Linked DNA regions of Homo sapiens: regions 1, 2 and 4 are each reported to be linked to region 3. Evidence: microRNA targets listed by miRTarBase, many of them from high-throughput screens and not tested one by one. Region 3 holds a microRNA gene; each other region holds the end of a gene's coding sequence.

Region 1 (6,150 bases), not on the chromosome of region 3:
GGACTGTTTTCCTACAGCGTGCCTCAAAAGTGTTGTAGAGGGCAGGATTCTACATTCACAGCCTGTTCCATCTACGAGATTTTCCAGATGCTACTTGTGGTAGACATTCCTAACTCATGGTACTTAGCCACCAGAGATCATGATGGAATGAGTGGGTGGCTTTTCTACCTGCCATTCCCTCAGAATTCATGAGGGGTGGGGGACAGGGGGACCGGAATTGTCTTAGCACCCCAATGTTATGACAAAACTATGCTACTTTAGAAACGCAGTCTGTTTTTCACCAATTGACATACTACTGATCTGAAGTAACCAGTGCCATCATAAGAAATTACTGCATTAAGAAAATCCTTGCTGTGCCCTTTGAAAAGCTGTTCAGAAATCATTTACAGTGATCTTTCATCTCGGTCGCTGTAGTGAAACATTTTAGTGTGATAAATTTCAAAATTCTAAACAAATTACCCACTTTTATATTGGAAATCTCTACCAGAACTCCCTCTTCATTTTTTAAGGCATACATTTGCTTGTTTTCAAGATCAAGAATTCTGAGCTAGCTTTAAGTAGCAAACTGATTTATATGTGCAATTATAGGATGCATTAAGATGAATGATAGCCTTTACATATTGAAAACTTTGCAGACGTTTTGTTTTGAAAATGGCATTGTATAGTAAATGCAAATTAATTTTGTAAAATTATGTTAAAGAGTATGTTCAGACACTTTCTGCCATGGCCAAAAAGTATGTATGAAAGTATGTGTGTATTTGTTTGTAAAAGGATGCCAATGTTTTACCTGATATCTTAGTGACACTTCAGTTATCTATGCATTCTTTAGATCTGTGATTCGGTAAACAGGCAGCCATGTTCACGATGCCTTCTATGTCTTACCATATTTTTAATTAACCTGTTAAATACAGCTTAAAATATTTTTATTTTATTTATTCTATTTTTACTGAAATATACTGCATTATTGTGTTAATGTATTATCTTTCCTGGATATTATCTCCCAGTGTATCCAGATCTAAGTAATCTCAGTGAACTATACATTGCCTAAAAAGTGGTTTTGTAATGATTTGTAGTCACATTTCTATTGGGATATGTAGAAGAAAAGGCAAAATGCTTAAAGTTCCTTTTATTTTTTAAAAGCAGCTAGATAGACACAGACTTGCCACCTCATACATCTGCTCCTTGGCAACATCAAGGGGAACGACTAGCCAACATGCCTATGGCTAAAAACTTTCCTTTGCAGACTAAAGCACTGCTTGGTGCTTCGTTTTTCTACCCTTCACAACATGTGTGATTTCATCTAAGAGATATATACATGTACACATGCCCTTTGTTTCCACCTGGATACAAGATCACTCATAGCTAATTAGGACCATTGTTTTTTGTTCATCTGTCTTGTTGCATGAAGGGACATTAGACCCATTTCCATTAAAATAAGTTCTTGGTGATAAACTGTGGCACTGCTACTTCTTTTTAAATCCACTTTATGATTTCAAGATGGACACTTGTAAGATGACTCGACACAAGGCCATTGCCTGGAAGCCCCAGAGCTTTCCTCTGTTTGTATGGCCCGTTCATGTCCCAGGCATTGCAACACAAACTCCTCAAGATTTCACCACAACATGACAAGCATTTTCCTAACTGATATTAGCACAATTTAACTAATAAGCCCCTTCGCTCTCTAGTTGGCCAGGCTTAACCTAATACACATCTAACGTGTGTGCCACACGGCCAGTAGAAAGTTTAACTTCAGCTTCAGGGCAAAGATACCCACTCACACCGTGTCAACGCAAGCAGTAGTTCCTGGCCTCCAGAGCAGCTTACTTCCCCTGAAAGAACGCTTTGTTTTCCTTTATGCCCTTTTCCTGTTGACCACTTTTACACATTTAAATGTAATTTGTTGTGAGAATAAATTTAGCTGCATAAAACGTTCGGCTCATTTATCTGACATCTTAGTCACATATACAAGGAATAGAAATAGAAACTCGGTGTCTCTAGTTATTTTTAAATTATTCTTACCTCAGACTTCTTAGAAATCACTTTAGTAATGGAGCATTTTGCTTTGATTAGTTACTACATATTTCTGCCTGGTAAGAACTAGGAAGTAACTTCAAATTTTGAGTAATCACCCTGTACTTATTTGGTGATCAGGAAGGCCAGCTGGCCTTCCGGACATAGAAGCCTATTTAGTCACCAACTCGAGTCTTTTGTAAGCGGTCTTGCTAGGATTGTGATATTTTAGCACGAAGAAGTTTATCACTTCCTTTAAGAACCTGACATCAAAGAATAAAGAATAGAGGTGTACACACACTAAATCCAAAATGAAAGGTAACTAGAGAAATCAGTTGAATCTGGTTTAGCTTAACTGTTAGGCGCAGGAAGGCAGATAAACAGAATTTAAAGTATGTCCCCGCTTTTTGTTCATCTTGCACTTCCACAGTGGTTTCTCTCTAGTCAGTAACAAAATTTCATTATGGTTTCAGGCATTATATGGTGGTAAATAATTTCAGATTAAAAATGTGTTTGCTATTGGAGTATCTGAATACTAGTAATTTCATTATTTAGAATTTTGCAGCACTTTTATCTCAAGAAGAAGTCCAAGAATGTAAAATGCCAAATGAAACATGTCAGTGGAATCAATATTCTCCTTCATTAGAATTCCCTCATATTGCTTTTTTTTTTTTTCTTCAGACAGAGGAGTCTTACTCTGGAGTGCAGTGGTGTAATTTCAGCTCACCACAACCTCCACCTCCCAAGTTCAAGCAATTCTCGCCTCAGCCTCCTGAGTAGCTGGGATTACAGGCATGCACCGCCACGCCTGGCCAATTTGTATATTTTTAGTAGAGACAGGGTTTCGCCACGTTGGCCAGGCTGGTCTCGAACTCCTGACCTCAGGTGATCCGCCCGCCCCAACCTCCCAAAGTATGTGAGCCACCACGTCCGGCCTCATATTGCTTTTATCCAAAATTCTTTTCCCTTTTCACTCTACCAAAGTATTTAAATAATCCTGTCCTTCATAGAAGATTCTCAAAGAAGAAAACTGCAGTGTAATTAATGAATGGTTTAATTCAGAATCTTCATATACTTCTAAAGAGAAAAATAATTTAGTGCCAAATGCATGTTAGGAGATAATCAATGTAAGTGGCAACAAATTGTGACTTCACATGCTACTGTAGAGATCAGAAAATTATCCTAAACTATTCCATAACAATGAGACAACATCACAGAAAATACACTTGAAAATAAAAATCTCAAGACCAGCTACTTCTGGACAATGGAATACTTTTCAGTCTGGTATGGTGGAGGGCCCGAAAAGGATAAGGGATTCTTATGATACACAATGGGATTCTTTACTGAACAATATGTTAAATTAAGCTGCACCGCCTTCCTTGAGGCATGGACTACCCTAACCAACCAGATAGAAATCTGGGTGGGATAAGAGGATGAGCCACACGCTATAATTTTAGGGCAAGGAGATAGTGTTTGATTTTCAAAATCAGCAAAATAAGCTGAGCACTTTATATCTTTCTGTACAAGAGTGATAACATGAAGAATTCTTCTTCAGGGATTTAAAATACAATAAGCCTGGTTCAACTATAAAAAGTCTTGTTTCCTTTCTTCATTGACACTTTTTTTTTTTTTTTTTTTTTTTTGAGGCAAGGTCTCACTCTGCTTCCCAGGCTGGAGTGCAGTGGGGCAATATTGGCTCACTGCAACCTGCACCTCCTGGACTCAAGAGATCCTCGTACCTCAGCCTCCTAAGTAGCTGGGACTACAGGCGTGTCCCACCACACCCAGCTAATTTTTGTATTTTTTGTAGAGATGGGGTTTTGGGGTTTCGCCATGTTGTCCAGGCTCGTCTGGAACTCCGGTGCTCAAGTGGCGTGCCCACCTCAGCCTCCCAAACTGCTGAGATTACAGATGTGAGCCACTGCACCCAGCCCACTGACACGTTTTACTGATAAATGTAAATCTAAGCTAAAATAAAAATAATGTATTACCGCTATAATACAATTCACCATTCTCTTTTCTCACTTCAAGTAAGAAAGTAAAAATAGAATATCAGAGCTGAAGTAGACCTAAGTATTCATCTTGAAGAAGATAATATTCTAAAAATCATGCCACCTGAATTGAGCATTTAGGAATTTATGTAACATTTCTATACAACTGAATTGCAAAAATAAAACTTTAAATTCAAACTTTATGAATATGTCTATGAATGTTTTTAAATAATAAGATATATAGTTGTATCTTAATTCTATTTAATGACAATTTCTGTTGCCATGATGAAAAATCAGTAGACCCAGAAATGATAATCATACCAATTTTTGGTAGGCAATTGAGAATACATTCAAGATGAATCGACATTTAATATAATTAATTAACATAGTGCTACAATATATTTAATTGTGCCTCAGAAATGATTTACCAAAGTTTGATTCCTGTGTGCTATTTGAAATGACTTGTAGATTTTGTTGTATCCCCTGATCTTAGAATCAGAAATTTGTGGGTTTCTTCAACAATAGGTATCGCTTGCATTCAACAGTTTTGCCTCTTCTTCAGAATTATTAATATTTAGATGGAAATTTGCTCACAGTCTTTTGTAACAGTGCTTGACATAGAGGAAGGGAGAGATGATTGTGTCCAGTCTGCTCAGGATCCTGGAAGCTCCCCCAGTGAGAGACACCTCACTGTAAAAGGAACTCTGAGCTACACACACCTGGCACTTGGGAACTTCCTGCGCTTCCTACTTAAACTCAACTTCAGTCACGTTACAAAAACTCATGTTCATTCCCTGTTCAAAGAACAGCTTGATATTTAAGAAAAAATCACCCTTGATCGTGACTGAGAAAGTCACGACTACAACCGCATGGATGCTGAAGAGCGGTCAGCTGGCGGGAGAGGCCAGGATCGTTTGCCTGTTTGGCTTTCTAATGAGCTACCTGCTGAAGGGAGGCAGTGTTTCCTTCCCTGCAGGGGAAACTTGGCAGCTTTAAGTCCAGCCTGAAAGTTCACAGGAGTGAGATAAGTTCTGACCGCTGATACTGAGTCTCTAACTGGATCCTCTCAGAGCAGCAGTGATTGGCTGAAGTCTCTGAATTCTGCTTTGCTGACTCCTACATTATTGTTTCTCACTTGTCTGAATTCTCTGAAAGTAATATCACACTTAGAAGATCCCTAGGTGACCAAAAGAATGAATATCTTGTGTAGAGATGTAGAATCTTCAGAGAAATACTAGACTTTGAAAAAAAATCAACTGCTCTTTGGCCCCTATAAAAAACACAAGACAATCAAAGCCATCGCCGAGGAGGCCTGAGTAGGGAGGAAGGTGTGTCATCTTTAGGCTTTTCCTCTTTTCTGGATAGTGAGTGTGTGGGAAGGCAGGTGGGCACAAGTGCCTTGGGTGCAACCCAACGACAGTACAAATGTTGAGTTGGCATCCGAGATCTGATCCCTTGGGGACTTGAAAATGGCATAAAGACTGGAGGCAGAACAATCTTGATGGGTTTCAGAGCAACCATTCTGTCTTCTGGCCGAGGTCTTAAGAAGTGTGTCTGCCGTTCACGCGGTCTGGAGGGACAAGTGTTCTTCACAAATGCAGGCACTGCAGGATGGGGGGCCAGCTTGTTGGGTTTTCTGGTCTGTGAGGAAGCCCCCACTTGAGCAGTATTTTTCTGGGGAAGAGGTGGTTTTGTTACAGTCTCTGATAGATTAGCACTGGCTTTAGTTTCTCGATTCAGGAACTCAGCAATTTTCATTTGGATGCCATTATCAGTAGTGGCACCTTTTGTCAATGATGTTTTTGATTTTTTCTTCTTCTTCTCCCGTTTTGATGATTTACCCAACTCAATCCCATCCAGCAGACCCTTGGCTGCAGCTCGGGCCAAAACATCATTCACAGACACTGTCTCAGAAGGGTCCCGCTGCAATTAAAGAAGCATTTACTAAATGTGGGAGTTAGCTATTATTGTGTCTCCCGCAAATATTTATCAATGTATCAGTAAAAATAAAAAGACTCTCTTTATTATACTAAAAGAAATAAGAAATAGTTTTTAGGCCTTAGTCCCCAATCTCATAAGCCTCAGCGAATGCCTTTTTAAAAAAACAAACAAAAAAAAAACTTAAACTTCCCCATTTATGAACCTGATA
Region 2 (6,150 bases), not on the chromosome of region 3:
GTTTAACTCCAACTTTGTTTCAGGCATCAATAAATTTACAAAAAAGCTTCGGAGTCCATATGCAATTGATAACAATGAACTACTTGACTTCCTTTCCAGAGTCCCTTCAGATGTACAAGTGGTATGTAGGTTTCGTTATTATTATTGCTATTATTTTAATGTAGTGTGGCATGGGGTTTTAGCTTTTATATCCTTCTAATTTCAAAGGCTTTAGAAGAGCTGAGTAAAAATTAATAAAGCCTGTGTAGCAGATTTTACCAGTCAGAAATTTAGCCCACCTGGGGTGTTATCCAAGAAGCACTTACAGAGAATGGGAGAAAGAGCAGTTGCATAAAGAACCTACCAGAGCTGTCAGGGAAGATCCTCCTCCAAGTTAGTTCAGCTGGAGTTTGTGACAGGGAGTATGACCTGAGGGGAGGAAACCAGGAATATTAGATGATGAAAGCAAAATATGCCAGTGGACATTTAAGAAAAAAAAGTCTTTCCAGAATTTGCAAGAGTTACAAGTAAGTTTTGAAGAAGTATATTTTGGAGATCAATGAGGAGAGGAAAGCTGACTGCTTTTTGAAGAGTGGAGCATATCTCAAAAATCCTTTGAGGTTAATGCCCATTAACCATCAGCTGTTTTCAAAATAAAAGAAGTTTGTTTTTTTTTTTTTAAATCCTGAAGCTGGGTTACAGTGATACCTTTTTCATTTGCTATGACATGACAGTGGGCTGGATGGAGATTAAGACTGTATTAAGCAAACACACGATAAATTGTAAAAAACCATTATCGAGCCCTTTAAAAAATTGATGTAGATGGTTTTACTTTTAATGTAATGTGTTATAGACAGTGAATACCATTACTAAAGTTCACATCAGGGCCCCATGTACTTTCCAACAGGATTTCCCTTATTCTTGCTCTGTCATTCTATTGCTTTCTGCATCTCAGCTGCAGATCCCATACAGCTTCTAGAGTGAGCACTTTCTTCCCCCAAGCACCGTCTCTCATTCCTTTGCTGTTCCTTTCTTTGCCAGAAAGTGGCCACCTGACCAGTCTTCCTCTGAACTCTGTTTAAACAGGTGCAATACCAAGAACTGAAACCAGATCCTTCTCATAGCCCATATAAAAGAAAGAAAAACAATCTTGGCTAGCCAGCTCCCAGCACTGAGGAGACCAGCATCTGTTTGGGAAGATAAAAGAAAAAGCCCTCAGCCTCAGCAGCATTTCCTTTCTTTCTGCTTTTTATTTATTTTGCCTTTTTATCATGATCGAGAGAATCTGTAAATAGTGTACAAAGGCATATGTCTTTGAATATATACTTCTATTGTACAGACTCAACTTGATAAAGGTTTTGCTACTGCTGTGTCAAAACCTTGTTAGCTGTGGATAATAATATAACACACTGAAAGAACAAATATAAGAATGATAACACTGGAAGATATATTCTTATCTAATTACTAGTGGATTAAATACTCACCTGTGCTCTGATTAAATCTACATCAATTGTAAATGTCGATTTGATTTTAAAGTTTTTTTTTAATGCGACTATTTTTTATCTGAAAAGTAATCCATTACACTTTTCTATGTTTTATACATTTCAAAAGGGAGGGAAATTCCAAAGCCTGAATAATGGAATGGATACATTTCAATTTAACATATATTCTGGCTTTAGATCCCGACATTCACTCCTGTGCAAATTACTTAGGTATGACTTAGGCTAATTTTAAGCTAATAAGTGAAGGTACATTCACTCCCTCAAGAGAATCAATACTCAGAAGGTTACAAAGTTTTCTTTATAGAATTTCAATCAATCATTCCATCTAAAACCTTAAAATCTCTACAGGACTACATAACATAAATACTGCCAGTTTATAAACGATTGCCTATCTGAATTTTTATACCTACCACTACTTTAATTTATACAGTTAGTTAGCAAATTAGCAACCCAGTAAGTACAGTTATCAAAAATACTAGGAAACTATATCCATATCGCTTTTGGTGTCAGATTGTATCTGTGCATCTAAAAATATTTTAATAAATACTCAAGTGCTCTCAGAGAAAAAAAAAACCTGCTTTCTCATTAGATTACTGAAATGCTTTAATTCATACTATGATTTTGTTATTAGTGTGAATTTTAATGTAGAGAATTCAGTGTGCTAAGTGATATGCCAGTGTTTCACTACATTCATTTATTAAAAAAAATCATTCTTGATTATGCATGAAAACCTGTTTTGTAAAATAAAATAAACTGCTTGGGGGTGGTGGTTGCCTTTATCAATGTTTCACTATTATCATAGAATCTATACTTAAAAATTGCATTCCCAAGACTCTTAAAGTAGTTTTTATATCTCACTCCCTGGTATACTAAGGGAGCATAACTCTGGAGAAAAAATAATTTGGTTGGTTGAGAATGTCTTACTTCCCTGACTTGGTAGGGGACTACACTCAGTTGAAATTGCAGCAGACAATGCTTTGCACTACTTTATTAATAATAAACTTGGATGGGGTAAAAGTGGGGGTTATACTGGAAAAACTATAGAAAAGCTAAAAGAAATGTATATTTCACTCTAAAGGAAGATTCTTTAACAATAAATGTAATCTCATTGAAGCTGATTTTTAAAGTATTTTTATTTTAGAGATAAGTTGTTAAATACTATTTCTTATAATAGAACTATTTTGATCTGTTTATATACTATGCTTGAATGTCAATTAAATTCCCTTTCTACAGAAAGGCTTTGACCTCAACATGCTTTATTTAATGTATCATGTTTAAAATGACATGCTTCTGTCTGCATACCATCACTGTTTGTTGCTAAAAACATAATGTTCCATGAACATGATGTTACTACAGAAAGTTTATTGATGAGATAACTGTTTGAAATAACTTTCAATTATACCTTATGTGAGACTTTTATGTTCTGTGCTGACAATGTGTACTCAAATGTCTATAAGCCTGATATTCTACAACCTCAGATGTATCTAGTGGATAGTAACCATTAACAGATGACTAATTTGTTTCACTGTATCAAATTTCAGATGTTTAGTTCAATGGTAATGCTGACTACACATTCACTGTATTAAATACAAAAGAAAATAATCTTTCCCACGTATAATCAGCACTCCTTTTTTTTTTTTTTTTGGTGGTTCAGAGATTGATGAGGGATTGTGTGCATATTCTTAAAAACTATATGTCACTTGGAGAAAAACAGATTTGGTTTAAACAAATAAGACCTTTTTCCTGAAACTCTGACTCTTATATGAAAATACCTCTGGAGGGGTGAGCAACCAATGACATTAACAGAGGAATAAGAACTAGCTTGAGGCACAAAAGTGATATTCAGGGAAATCTTCATTGCTTTTAGAAACTACTACATTCACAGGCTGAAAACAGAATATGTATAGTTAAAATTTTAACTATTTATTTCTTTCCCCTTCTCACATAGCTGCAATTCTGTCTTGAGAGCTGCCTGACTTGCCTTCATTTTGAGATCTGTGATGTAAATATTTCTTAAGAGACTGAATGTCACTCAAACATCTACTTGGACTGCTAACTATTATAGATATTGTGAACTACTAAATATATTCCTTTAGTATCTTTTAGTGAGTAAATTCACTGAGTCATTATTTATATTCATAAACTATTACTGACATTCGTTGTGATAATTCATAAGAAATGCGTATTTGTGCTTTTAAATTTTTCCCCACTTATCAAAAAGAACATAATAGTACTTCTCATTCATTCTGGTACTGTTCCAGACTCAAACTGATTGATTGATTGAATCTCCCAACTCAGATTATCCTAGTGCATATAGAATGTTCAAAAACTGGAATTCCTACAGAACCTATCAATCAATCAATCAGTTTTTGAACATTCTATATGCACTAGGATAATCTGAGTTGGGAGATTCTTAAAAGGACTCTGTGATATATTTATCGAATACCAACTGTATGACCCTGTTATAGACAACGGTCAAACCAATGATTGTATACTAAAATCAAATCTGGAGTTGAAGTACAGTGAGAGCCAAATTTAATTGATACATTTCTAAAATTATCTTTTATAAAATTTTTATTCTGCATTTAAAAGTGAAGAAAAACTCAGAAGTAAATGCTTATCTAGGGACCACAGGAGCTTTTTTTCCACTTTGATCTCATATCTAAGGTCTCCTATGCTCAAAGTAGTCTACATTTGTATTAATGTTATTCAAAGGCAGTAATTTCAGCGAATAAACTTGTTAAATGGGCCTAAATGTTTATAATGTTGACTAAGCATTAAGAACAAACAAAAAGGTATAAGGCAGTTATACCTTTTTGCTCCAGAAATACAAGTAAAGACAGCTACCATTATACTTCTTGAAAAACGTCTCAGGTATTGCTAAATTAATACTTGCTTAAATTCTTGGGCTTTAAATGAATAGCGTGATTTCACACTCTAGTGTGAGTGAGTGTACAGATGATGTCTATTCGTTGGTTTGATTAGGGTATCTAGAATCAGCCTTTTCTAATTGCTCAGTAAAGTATGAATTAAAACCACATAGAAAATAATGTGGTAAATTCTTTCTTACAATAGTGTCATTCCTTTCAATTATAATTCTTTTTCCTGGGATGATTGGTGTAACTCACTGAAAGAAAACAAAACATTTTTTTTTCTTTTTTTTTTGGTGAAAATGTTACCCTCTGGTACCTCAGTTTCTTTTATATAGTGGCAATTTGAATAGAGGCAGTCACATAAGATTTACTTCAGCTGAATGGCTAAAATTTGAGAAATACTATTGAAAAATCTCATTAAAAAATAGTATGCAAATAAAAACTATCAAATGTCCAAAGCAATCATACAATGTAGAAACTAAGAGCACCATGAAAGGTTTCCTGGAACTTAATGATTCTATCTGTGCTTTTCAAAGGAGGGATCTGGGTTAAGAATCAAAAAATAAAAACAATCAAATATTGTAACTGACCTCAAATGAGTTTCAATTTATTGGGCTCTTCTTTGACATTCTAAGCTTAAAAAAAAAAAGAAAAAAACAAAAAAACCACCAAAAACCCATACAAAAGAAGTGTTCTATTACATGCACAAGCAGTATTTTTGTAAAGACAGGTTTTTAAATTTATATGATTATCCGTACCTCCAAATGTCACTGAAAAATTATTACTCCATTTTTTACAAAGTAAAATACACTGCTGTTCTGCTTTAGTCAATTAAGTGTTTATTATATTAGGCAGAAAGATTTGTTTCAAGGAAAGCGGAAATGGTTTACGTAAGTAGCCGTGCCTACGTTTTTTCAGTATGTAGCAAAATTAAAATTGCAGTGCAATTATCCCCTACTACAGATTCTTCAATGTTCCTTCCAAAGAGAAAAGGAGTGGCCAACCTGAACCAATGAGTGAACCTGAAAACTATCTTTTCTCTGGAGGAATACATTTAAGGAGATCCTGAGGCCTGGCTGAGTGGAACTCACTCCCACTTGCTAGTGGGAACTTGCTCCCACTAGTGAAGAAAGATGATAATATAGGTTCAGTTTCACTTTCTAGTCAAAGACAAGCTCAAAAGGGCTTGAGTCCATTTGAGGGATTTTATTTTGCCAGAGTTCAAATGGTGACAGGTTTGGAGGAAATGCTAAATTCATAGAAAAAGCACACCTGGCCCTCACTACTCATACTTGCCTTTTGCATTACTGGAGACACCTGAGAATAGTCAAGCATTGTTAGAGACAGCTGGACCACAGAAGAGAGATGAGGGGAAGGAAATGACATATTTGTCCCAAGCTCAAAGAACCCTTTTTAATAAAGCTATCAGAGAACTGAAACCTTATAACTACATGCCCCACAAAACATTCTTCTTTTCTATAGTAGTAATTATGAAAAGTCAAAATCTCTGTGTACCTTGTAACACTGCAACCATGGAAAACAATTTATCGGTGTCAAGAACTAATAAGCTCTTGGAAAAATTTTACAAAGAAGTGTCTATTTGCTATTATACAAGGCGGAGTATGTAATTTTGTCATCTTTGTTTTATAATAGAGGAAGTAGTTAACAATTTCTGAGCAAAAAAACACAATGGTATACCTACCTCTTACGTTTGGCCTTAAACTCTTACAAACTTCAGTTTCCATTAACAGAGAACCTAGCAAACATAAGAGGGTCTTTGAAGCACACGAGAAGCC
Region 3 (6,150 bases):
AACAACATCATGCACAAGGGCAACGGGTCCCAGTAACATCTTTAACATTATGGGCCTTAGTCAGGGCTGCTTTGGCCCCTCTCTGCACAGAAGAGCCTAAAAAGGGAAGGGAGGAGGAGGAACCATCACCTACCTTACCGCCTCCTCCTCCTCCCTCAGCCCCACTATTACCAGGTAAAGCTGCCAGAGAGGAGACACAGATTTTCCCTGAGCACCCCCCGCCCCCACCCCAATAAATTGCAAAAAAGACAAAGGATACACTACAGTCCTAGGCAAGTGGCATTAGAAGGGGAACTCTTGGCCTGCCCGGTGATGCAAGATCAACAAGGCAACTGGGTACGTGAATCCATTAGTTTCAACACTTATAAAGAAATAACAAAAAAGCATTAGAGAAAACAGAGCCGCTAGCCCATTTACACGAGGATTAATCGAGGCCATAGCAAACAACTTCCATATGGCCCCTTTCTAATAATGGCCACTGTTGTTATTCTTCCCCGACCCCTGACATGGCTCTTTCAAGATCCTATTTGGGTTGAACAGTGGCCTTTAAAGGGAGAGAAATCACAAACAGCCCATGAATTAGTTGAAGAACAATTAAAAGCCAGCCATATAGAACCGTCAAACGGCCCTTGGAATCACTCATTTTCATCATTCCCAAAAGGTCTGCTAGATGGAAACTTTTGCATGACTTACCTGCCATCAATGCTAATTTGCAACCTATGGGGCCCCTTCAACAGGGGATCCCTTCCCCCATGGTGATTCCTCAAGGTTGGCCCATATTGACTCAAAAGACTGTTTTATTGACTTTAAAGACTGCTTTTACACTATTCCCCTTGCAAAACAGGACAGAGAAAAATTTGCATTTACAATACCAGCTATCATTAATGAAAGGCCAGCTCAGAGGCATGTCCCCTCCATCAACACGTGTTAACCCTAGAGGACTAGAACCTAATCAGTTATGGCAAACAGACGTTACGCACATCCCTGAATTTGGAAAACTAAAATATGTACATATATCCATTGATACCAATTCCCACCTAATTAGCACTCATGCTCTTCCCGGAGAGTTTGCCCAGTATGTCATTAAACATATTCTCTTAAGTTTTGCGTTTATGGGGCGGCCCACAAAAATTAAAACTACTAATGGTCCAGCTTACACCAGCTCACAATTTCACCAATTTTGTCACACATGGATGTCCAATATGTGACATCCACAGGCATCCCGTACAAATCCCAAGGACAAGTCATAGTAGAACATGCCCATTCCACCCTTAAAAATATGCTCAGAAAACAAGGGGGAATATGAGTAAGGATGCTGCAACACTACTAGCATAAGCCTTATTTACCCTTAATTTTTTTAATTTAGATAAATTTCAATCAGCCATAGAAAAGCATTTTGCAAAAGCCCCTCAAGACATAAAACCCATGGTTTTATGGAAAGAAGTTAATAGTAATCTATGGTGTGGTCCAAATGATTTGCTGACCTGGGGAAGAGAATATGCTTGTGTTCACACGCCCTCAGGTCCTCTTTGTATTCCAGTGTGACAGACACATCAAACCATACCATGGCGTGGCTAAGACCCAAGCTGGTATCAAAAATAAAGGAAACGACGCTGCAGGACCCGCAGCCCCAGACGATGTGGCTTCCTCCGATGACACAGGCCCCAGACATTACCTGGGGGAAGCTGAAGAAGACAACTCAGGAGGCCGAGTGAATCCTTCTCTGGACACAGACACCATCACTCCAGATAATCTGTTCCTTGCTATGCTCTCTATTGTACCTTGCAACTCTCATAGGGTATTCACCTTTCTTATTCTCTCACTTTGCCTGCAACTCATACCTGCTACATTCTATTGGGCCCATCTTCTAAGATCTGCCTTTCTTCCAACCTGTTACCTTGGCAGACACCCCCTTCCCATCCTCTAATAATGTAACTGCTTAGCTGGGAGGGGTTGACATGCCCCCAGTGGGGTTCCTTAATAATGGCACACATTGAACTGAGGTGCCAAGTAACACTACATATCTCTCCTTGATTGGAAAAGAATAATAGTGACTATACTAATGTTTGACTTATGTTATTTACTAATTCTAGGATGCAAAGCCGGAACACGAGCTGTAACCGCTGCGCCTGTCAAATCTGTCACTGCACACATCTGTACTATTCAATCAACAAAACCCGATGCTAAAAACAGAAAAGGGGGAGACGCGGGAGATCGGTCAGAGTGGTAGGAGAAGGTATAGGGAAAGGAACAGACCTTCTGAAAGGCGGGAAGGCTCTGGATAGCTTCAGGGATGAATAAGCTGAAGGCAGCTGTTCTCTTACCCTGAGGCAGAGGGCAAGGGGTAGGTAAGGAAGTATAGGGGAATTTGGCATAAACAGGCTTGTTTACTTACATTGTCCGGAAACCGACTTTGATCATCAGGGCAGGAGACTGCTCCCTGAAAGGGGGAATAATAATGTTAATTACCCACAGATTGTGTTGGCTCCAGGCTTTCATTATTTTGTCTGTACTGAATAAAAGCAAGCAGCTCCAGCTGTTCGAGACTGCTCACTCTTCAGCCATTAGTGCTGGGCATTCCTGTAGCTGCTCTTACACTGCATGCCTGTGGCTGAGTACTCCTTTCATCCGTTGCTTGGCCAGGGTCTGTGGGATGGACCCCGCAGGTAAGGGTTATCAAAAAAAAAAAAAATTCACAGGCAGATAGGAACACCATGACCATACTAAAAGGCTTTTTTCCCATTTTAGTCTTGCAAGTTTGTAAAGAAGGATATGAAGCCCCTAAGAAATCAGTGAAACACTTTTTCCCAAAACCTTTATTTCCTATGTCTTGTCTTCAGAAGTTTATCTAGAAACTCCCCAGCTAGTTTAGTATTGAGGAGGGTACCAGATGGACTATCTATGTGCTAAGAAAAGCATACCACTGCATGCAACTAAATATCTGCAATATCATTGCATATGTAGTACATGTCATGTGTTACTCCACTCTTAGAGGTTTCAATCACACCTAATTACATGTGATTGCCACTCTCCTGAGTAGGACACCACACACATACACAGCATTCCTGAAAATGGGAGCACAGCCTAAATACTTAATCACACACTTTTCAAACAACCTCTCAAATGTTTTCAGTCTGTAAGTGGCCGTTGGCATTTATGTAAATGATTCCTGAAGAACCTACATCATTTTTTATTCACTCATTCCCCCTTGAGTGTTGTCCACTCATGGTTTGGAGTTTTCACATGGCAGTTTTCAGGACTAAGAACCTTCCTGCTAGGCTCTCCTGCTAACGGGAAAAATCTCATTCGATGCCTTATTCTATTTCTTTTCCCATTGTTTTATATAAAGTATTAATGAGTAGATTGCATTCCCCAGATTCAGTAGCTACCCAGACACTACACTCTATCTCACCAATCTGTGCCTATCATCCAAAGATCTGAGTTCTTCTACCTGAGTTCCTTACTACAACTCCTCACTACAGAATAAGCAAGGACATCACACAGGATCCTGGAAGCAAAGAAGAGAGAATAATCAGTGAGTGGTAAGATGGAGAGAGTAGAATTTCTTTTATCCTCATCAAATTTTGAAGTGAAAAAAAAAATCCCATTTTACTTACCAGGAGTGATCTACAAAACAGAAATTGTGCTAGGCACCCAGACACTCTTAGAGATTTTTCAGTTTCTGGGTTTTCTTCGTCTTTTCTGGGAGCAAGGTTCTTTTTAGCATGTGTTTGCATTTTTCCAATCTGAGACACATGCTACTAGGTGACTGTGTTTCCCTGCAAAACTAAAATTAGCACACACAAAAATATGGACACAATTTTGGTGACTGGATTTCAGAGACTGAGAACTGAGAATTTAAAGTGACTGTGGCTTACAAAATTACCTGTTCCCCTATCTCCTAATCAAGAGCAACAATATACTTGTGGGTTTAAGAAGCCTCCAGAATTTCTCATCCACTCCACAAACCCAGTTTAGTGTTTCAGAGGCTAAATACTAGGCATGTGAGGTTAGAGGTCAGGGGCCTGCTACTATAGCCATTCTTCATCACAGGGTTTAGGCTCTATACCAGGTGCAGCCGGCGGAGATAATTGAGTACGTAATACTCCTCATCTCAGCTTAATCATCAGGGGGAGCTTCCACTTTGGGTGAGGCAAACCAGAACACTAGAATCCACTGCTATCACTCATCACCCTGGTTGTAAAGCAGGGGTGTCAGTGTACAAGAAGCAGGACACTGCCTTATTCTCAGCTTGGGGCAACTGCTCAGGGATTTGTCCATTGAGAGAGGCTAGCCCTAAGAGAAAAAGCATTAAAGCTTTCCTTCTCAAAAGAAAATGACTTCAGTTGTAACAGAAGACAAGAAAGGTCTCACAAATAATGTAGACTGTGGTGCCAAGTAATTAGGATGGAACTGGAATCAGGAAACAGACAGCTAATAAGAGCCTTTCTGGTAGGAGAATAGCCTTTAGAGACCTGCCCCAAAAATTATCTGCAAAGTATTTGGATAAGACTCTAAAGCAATTTTTGCCCATGGTATTCTCAAAAGCTACAAAATAATCCACCTGCAAACACTGAAGCTTATTACCTGTGTGTGATACCGCAGAGGCAGGCAGCTTAACAGAAAGAGCAGCAAAAGAACAAAGAACTCTACTAAAATCACGACAGTTTAGAGTGACTGTGTACATATCCAAAGTTATACCTTGCAAGGAACAACATTAGGTTTTCACAATAAAAAGAATATAGATTTTACTAAAACAGCACAGCCAAGTAAATCAACAAATAAAAAAATCAGACAACAACAATCCCCAGAAGCAAGATCTGCATCCAAAACTTCTATAATATATTAATAAAATATCCAGTTCTCAACTGGACATTCTCAGACATACAGAGAAAATAAAAATATAACACACAGGACAAAAGTAGATTACAGAAAATGCTGGCAACAGAGCCTAATGTTATACTTAACAACAACCTTAAAGCATCCACTGTAAGTATTTTCAAAACACTAAACAAATGGTGCTTGGAAGAGTAAAGGCAGCTATGTTGACAATGCCTCATCAAAAGAGTCTATCAATAAAGAGGTAGAAATATTTAAAGAAAAGGAATTTATGGAGTATAAAAGTAAAATAATTGAAGTGAAAAATTCACTAGAAGGACTCAGGAGAAAAAAGAATCAGTGAACTTTAAGATACCTTGAAAGTGATAATTCTATAAAAATAAAAGAATAAAATGAGTGAAGAAAATGAACAGTGCCTCAGAGAAAGGCAGAACACCAGCATGCACATCAAAATACGCATATTAAGGTAGCAGAAGTGAAAGATAGAAAGGAGCAAAAAAGTATTTTTTAAAAATGGCTGTGAATATCTAAATTTGATGAAAAACATTTTTTATTATACCTAAGAAGTGCAAAACACTACAGGTAGCATAAACAAAAGAAATCCAAGCTGAGAGACATATCTACTTTTTGGTGACAAAAAAAGAGAATATTGAAATCTACTAGAAAAAATAAACTTAATGCATACAAGGGATCCTCTACAATATATTTCGCTGACTTTTCATTAGAAACCATAGAGGCCGGAAGACACTGGAATAACATTTATAGTGCTAAAAGGAAAACAGTCAACCAAGAATCACGTACCTAAATTTAGACACTCTAAGATATGGCATTAAAATGTAAACCATAAAATAACAAATGGTGAATCATCCTTTATGAAAATACAAAAAAAAAAAAGTTTGCTCTGTACAACACATGGTTAAGGGAATGCAAAAGTAAACCACAGACTAAGAAAAAATATTTGAAAATCACATATCTGGGCCGGGGACGGTGGCTCATGCCTGTAATCCCAGCACGTTGGGAAGCCAAGGCAGGCGGATCATGAGGTCAGGAGATTGAGACCATCCTGGCCAACATGGTGAAACCCTGTCTCTACTAAAAATACAAAAAATTAGCTGGGCATGGTGGCACACGCCTGTAATCCCAGCTAGTCAGGAGGCTGAGGCAGGAGACTCACTTGAACCAGGGAGTCAGAGGCTGCAGTGAGCCGAGATCGTGCCACTGCACTCCAGCCTGGTGACAGAGTGAGACTCCGTCTCAAAAAAAAACAGAAAAAAAGAAAGAAAGAAAAAAAATCACATATCTGACAAATAA
Region 4 (6,150 bases), not on the chromosome of region 3:
TTAAGAGATATACACAATGGCACTTTTAAGTATTCAGGTAAAAAAATATCACTTGAATCTGATATTGATCAAACTTCTAGATCCGACCATCAATTTTTAGGAAATACAGTGGACAGAGGACCACATTAAATGACACTATGGGGAGGGGAATTATGAAAATCTGAATTGAGAAAATTCTACAGGACAAATGACCTAGTGTGATAAACAAAGAAATTGGGATGGGGGAGTAGAGAGAAATAGAGTGAGGGCAAACTTTTTTTTTTTTTTTTTTTTTTTTGAGACAGTCTTGCGCTGTCGCCCAGGCTGCAGGGGGCAAACTTTTAAAGGAGGTTTAAGAGACATTTAATTGCAACTGTGGACCTTATTACAACTGTACTTTGTACAAAGCTAAAAATTGCCAGATATTTGGGGAAATTTAAGCACTGAGTGGGCATTGGGTAATACAGGAAATTATTGTTAATTTGTTTGTTATAGGTGTGATAATGGTATGGCAGTTATGTTTAAAGAGTCCTTATCTTTTAGACACTACATTTAGAGATATAAGCATAAGTTTATAGAAGAAATGATAAAATGTTGGGAACTTGCTTCAAAATAATCTGGGGATGTGGGAGTAGAAGGAATATAGATTAAACACATTTTTTCTACTTACATATGTAATTGAAATGTTTCATAATAAAAAGTTAAAAATAAATAAAAACCATAAAAAGTTAAAAAGAAAACAAAAATTTGCCCAGCTCTTGCAGAGACTGCAAGGCAAGAAAATCTAAGAATCTCTTAGCCCTTCAGAATAAAGTCAGCTTCACGACTGTGAAGTCACATTCTCAAAATGGATAGTCTGATTGAGATTAAGAGATTCTCTGCATTCTCATTCCTTCTTGTCATAGACTAACGAAATACTTCACTGTAATCTAAAATATATCAGATCATGACATTTCTCTGCTCAAGTCTATCTGTAGCTCCCCAGTACTTTATATGTACCCAGAAAAACAGCTGATGCCCTTGTAATAGCCTACAGAACTCTCCCTACTTGATATCCCCTCAGTGGTAGCCAGCCCCCAAGATGGCCCCCCAAAATGATCCCCACCTCCTGGTATTTGTTATTCTCTTCCAAGACTGGTCTATGTGATCAGTAAAATAAAGAAAAGGTGATGACATGTTACTTCTGAGATTCGGTTATAGACACTGTGGCTTCCATCTTGGTTTCTTTCTTCCTCCTCGGATCACTTGCTCTGGGGGAAACCAGCTGTCATGTTATCAGCAGTGTCATACAGAGGCCACATAGCAAGAATTCCGGCGAACTGAATTCTCCTGCCAACCGCTCTGTCAGTGTGCATGGAGGCTGATCTTCCAGCTTCAGTCAAGCCACTTTTTTTAAAGGGTTGGATGGTAAATAGTTCGAGCTTTGCAGGCCATGTGGTTTATATTGCAACTACTCAACTTTTCCATCATACACAACATGAAAATTAACGTGTTCCCAGAAAATCTTATTTACAAAAACAGGCAGTAGTTTGGTAACTCTCCCATGACTTCAGTGCAGGCTCACAGCTTGATTGCCACCTCATGAAACCCTGAACCAGAGCTATGCAGATAAGCTGCTCCAATTCCTGAGCCTCAGGAAATGTGAGATATATTTCTTTCAAGTTGCTACACTTTAGTGTAATCGATAACTCATATACCATCATCCCACTCTCCACACCCCATGTATACCTCTTTTTACTTCTCTAATCTCTACTCTCCACCATTCATTCAGCTCAGGTCATAGAGGCCTCCTTGTTGTTCCTTGATTATACCAGGGGTGCTCGTGCCTTCGGGCCTTTGCACTTGCTATTTTTTATGCCTGAAGTACTTCTCCCCAAGACATCTACTTGGTTAGATTCAGTATCTCCTTTAGGTCTTTACTCAAATGAGCCTTTCTCAGTAAAGTGAGGAGGGGAATAGTGAGGATGTTCCCTCATCCTACTTATAAATGTAACACACCTTCCTTCCTACATTCCCTATTTCCTTTATTTTTCTTCATAGCATTTACCACCATGTAACATACACTTTATTTATTTTATTGTCTGTCTTCCTCCGCTGGATTGTAATCTTCATGAAGGCAGGAGTTTCCATTTTGTTTACTTCAGTATCCAAAACAGTACCTGGCCTGCAGTAGCCCTCAATAAATTTTATTATTTAACAAACCTCCCAACACCTTAAAGGCATGAATATCTTACTTGACATAATATACCCAGTCCCTGGCACATAATAAATATTAAATGCTAAATTAGCTTTCAAGAATTTTAAACATGTGAATATCAGATGTGTTTTTGAAAGATCACTCTAGGAAAAGAATGGAGGAAGCAATTGGTGTTTGTCAATACTTGATTCTCATTTGCTCTCTTTCAGAATATTCAGCCCTTCAGAATAAAGTCAGCTTCACGACTGTGAAGTCACATTCTCAAAATGCATAGTCTGATTAAGAGATTCTCTGCATTCTCATTCCTTCTTGTCATAGACTAACGAAATACTTCACTGTAATCTAAACTAGATCAGATCATGACATTTCTGTCAGGCAATTTCACCCATCCTCACTGTTCATTACTTCCTAAATGCAATTTAACCTTAAAATTTGCATTGTCCCTGTCCGATTTCCCAAAGCTACCCTCTTTCTCAACTTTGGGTTGCATAACTTACTGTGTGACTTTGGACGAATTACTTAACTCTATGTTCCTCAGTTTCCCTAGCTGCCAATGTGGATATTAATACTTATCTCAAAAGAATGTTATGATGATAAATGATTCAATTCATGTAAAATACTGAGAACAGGTCTGGTGCGGTGGCTCACACCTGTAATCCCAGCACTTTGGGAGGCCGAGACAGGTGGATCACTTGAGGTCAGGATTTCAAGACCAGCCTAGCCAACATGGTGAAATCTCATCTCTACTAAAAAAAATACAAAAGTTAGCTGGGCGTGGGATAGGCACCTGTAATCCCAGCTACTCGGGAGACTGAGGCAGGATTATCACTTGAGCCTAGGAGGTGGAGGTTGCAGTGAGCCATGATCATGCCACTGAACTCCAGCCTGGGCAACGAAGTGAGACTCCATCTCAAAAAACAAAACAACAACAAATCCATTCTCCACAATACAGTCTGATCTTTTTCAAAATGCATATCTCATCAGGTCACGTTACTTTCATTACAAGCTCCCATTGCCCTCAAGATGAAAACATGGACTTCAGTCCTGCATTGGCTAGCTTCTACTTTTCCAGATTATCCTCATGATCACATCTATTCCAGAATGTACTCTGGCCAACCAGACTCCCAATGCCCTGAGAACTTCAGAAGTGCTCCTCCCTCTGTCTGGAATGCCCTACTTTCCCCTTCCCAGATACTGCCTACCTTCCCTGTTCTATAAAGTGCTCACAAACTTCATTTGCCTTCCCAGATGAAATTCCTTTTATTAAGCCCTCCCTTTTGTAGCAGTAAATTTGTTCACATGTGATTTGATCAGTTTCCGTCATAATACTAACACAGCAGAGCAGGCTGGGTGTTTTTACTCATCACATACATCCTCAATGCTCTGCAGCGGTGCACAGTAGTAGGTACCTGGTTAACTATTTGTGAAAAACATGAAAAATGGGAACAATGGGGCAGAGCCAAGTTAGGAAGTTCAGTCATCCAAGAATCAAGGAGTTGCTGCACTGAGGTATTGCACGATGATGGGGGCACTTAAATTTTTAGGAAAACGAATTAAAACATTGAATTAAACAATAATTTCAAGCAATTCCCAAACCAATTAATGCATAGATTAGGTTGTAACTGTCCAGATATGTTTGGCGACACAATTCTATTAGCATCAAGACTCATCTAAGTACCTGAAGTAGTGGCACCACCATCAGGCTCAGCAGTACAAAAAGGCACATCATTCTTGTCCTCCCTAATCTCCTGCAGTATGGATTTTGCCAAACCATTTCGATTAGAGCTTTCAAAGGCCAGTTTATTCGGGAGAAAGGGTCCATCCACTTGTAAGTTTCAATAGACAACCAACACGCCGGTGTTGGGGTAGGGGCTTTTGAGAAAGAGATGAGGATGCTCTGAGACAAGATTCCAACCGAGTGAACTAATTTTTTCAGACAAGGACCACAGTAGATTCTGTAGCTGAGTTGAGATTTGGTTTTGAGTTTCTGGTGCCTACAAAGCAGGTGGTTAGGGCTTTCTAATAAGCAGTTTAACATTGGTTTACAGCAGGCCTCACACCCAGAGTCTTTGGGCTAACTATAAGAGCAAACTACAGAGCAACTTATATGTAAGAACTGTTCTAAGCACTTGAGATTACATTTACAAGCTATTAAAAACAGTATTTGAGACTGTCAAGACAATCATATACATTTTATACAGCTATATAAAAAATTGTTCTACAGTAAGATTTCCTGGCCGGGCATGGTGGTTCACAGCTATAATCAGCACTTTGGGAAGCCGAGGTGGGTAGATCACTTGAGGTCAGGAGTTTGAAACCAGCCTGGCCAACATGGCCAAACCCTACTCTACTAAAAGTACAAAAAATTAGCCGGGCATGGTGGCTCACACCTGTAATTCCAGCTATTTAGGAAGCTGAGTCACTGCACTCCAGCCTGGGTGACAGAACGAGAGTGTCTAAAAAAAAGATTTCCTATATAACGCTACTTTTACCTGAGTACATAAAAGATTTTGGAAATCGTGGGAAAAAATTATACCAGCTATAAGCTATTTAAATACTGTTGATAGTTATCAGAGGGAAATCAAAATCATATAAACAGCATACTCAAAAAAATGAGACAAAAGTTCAAGAGTATAATATTTTTTATTCACTGATAAACTAAAAGCCAATTTCTTGGTATTTCTCATGTATACTTCATTTATTTTATTAATAAGCAAAGCCCTGTAAGGGGAGCCTTTGCCTAGTCCTCCGACTCTGATTCATCTTCATCTTGACTAATCTGGAAGTAACGAAGTTCGTAGGTCTCCTTGTCAGATGCAACCACTCGAAGCCAATCACGAAGATTGTTCTTCTTAAGGTATTTCTTGGTAAGGTATTTCAAATACCTTTTAAAATAAAAACATAAATTTCATTAAGAAATACAATTCCTACTATGTAAAGGTTTACTATACGAAAAATATACATCATCATATTCATCTTTTCTGTACCTAGCTTCCTCCAAAATATTTCATCCTTCCATTCACAGGATGTATTGTGTAAGACTGTTAGGGTAGCATCCTCTTGTCATACTGCCACACTATATATTGTTCAAGATTGTTAGGGTAGCATTCTCTTGTCAAACTGCTACAGCCAAATTATTTAAGCAATATGATTTCACTCTTCAAATATATTATCTGTGTATATATATGTGAAAACGTTAACACCTCCTTCACCACTATCAAGCCCCCTAGCTCCCAATCCCACCCCGGCTCAACAGGCAACCTATTAATAATAGGGTTAAACCCATACTATGCTCATTAAGTCTCAACTTCTCTGAAAATTCTTGGGCTCTCTCTACATCTAATGTAACTAGAGTTGTATTTTACAATAATTATCTGATTATCTGTAAGATACTTGATTTACAGCTACTACAGCTACTACATTTTTATCTCTGAATCCTTAGTGATTATAATCTCAGTTAACATGTACTGCAACCACTTTAGTCCAAGCCATCATTGTCTCTCACTGAAATTAGCTCTTACATCTTCAGTTTCCACCAGATGTATCACCCTAGTCTTTTTCAGCCACAATAAACAATTGCTTCCCATTACACATCCCATGGCTTTCAAGATCTGCTCCCCAGACACCCTCCAATCTCATGCATTCCTCCCAGAACACTATACCCCAGACACACTGGCTTTGTTACTATTACTTTAATCTGCCAGGCTTCTGGTTCATCCTGCCTGTAACAACTGCAAGGCTCACTTCTGCATTTCATTTCCTGACCAACTTACCAACGTACCCAAAAACTCTGCAACTAGTTTTATGCCCTTACAGCACTTATCACTGCTTGATTAATTCCATTTCACTCTCTCTTCTCCACTAGAAGTTTCTTGGTGGTGGGTAAACTGCCTGCTTGGTTCACTGTTGGGTTACCCAGTCCTGTGCTGCCCATGTAGTATTTAATATTTGGTGAATAAATTCAACAAATAAAA

What was found. Region 3 holds the annotated microRNA hsa-miR-510-3p (AUUGAAACCUCUAAGAGUGGA, at 2,982-3,002, opposite strand). A microRNA usually pairs through its seed, bases 2 to 8, with sites in the 3' UTR of a target mRNA and lowers its output. Matches are read on the target gene's strand: a 7mer-m8 pairs with bases 2 to 8, a 7mer-A1 pairs with bases 2 to 7 and ends in A, and an 8mer does both.
Region 1: the mRNA of NSUN7 is a reported target of hsa-miR-510-3p. Seed matches in the 3' UTR shown: 7mer-A1 at 5,242-5,248 and 7mer-A1 at 4,453-4,459.
Region 2: miRTarBase lists MCTP1 as a target of hsa-miR-510-3p. Seed matches in the 3' UTR shown: 7mer-A1 at 1,582-1,588 and 7mer-A1 at 4,883-4,889.
Region 4: the mRNA of RPL22L1 is a reported target of hsa-miR-510-3p. Seed matches in the 3' UTR shown: 8mer at 4,487-4,494.

What each region holds. Positions count from the first base shown.
Region 1 is chr4:40,808,081-40,814,230 of GRCh38, reverse strand. It overlaps NSUN7 (NOP2/Sun RNA methyltransferase family member 7), which reads right to left. Exons shown (of 12, transcript NM_024677.6): 12 at 3,047-5,924. The coding sequence ends at 5,292. It overlaps APBB2 (amyloid beta precursor protein binding family B member 2), which reads left to right. Exons shown (of 18, transcript NM_004307.2): 18 at 1-4,204. Among named protein-coding and RNA genes, the nearest start is that of NSUN7, 61 kb to the right of the region's middle. RefSeq lists an enhancer at 6,065-6,150.
Region 2 is chr5:94,702,483-94,708,632 of GRCh38, reverse strand. MCTP1 (multiple C2 and transmembrane domain containing 1) reads left to right here. Exons shown (of 23, transcript NM_024717.7): 22 at 24-121; 23 at 1,066-4,943. The coding sequence ends at 1,137. Among named protein-coding and RNA genes, the nearest start is that of SLF1, 87 kb to the right of the region's middle. RefSeq lists an enhancer at 5,416-5,485.
Region 3 is chrX:147,269,361-147,275,510 of GRCh38, forward strand. MIR510 (microRNA 510) reads right to left here and starts at 3,048; the gene lies at 2,975-3,048. LOC105373347 (periphilin-1) reads left to right here. Exons shown (of 4, transcript XR_005647084.2): 4 at 1,523-2,535.
Region 4 is chr3:170,861,464-170,867,613 of GRCh38, forward strand. It overlaps RPL22L1 (ribosomal protein L22 like 1), which reads right to left. Exons shown (of 4, transcript NM_001099645.2): 4 at 3,412-5,061. The coding sequence ends at 4,917. Among named protein-coding and RNA genes, the nearest start is that of RPL22L1, 5.7 kb to the right of the region's middle.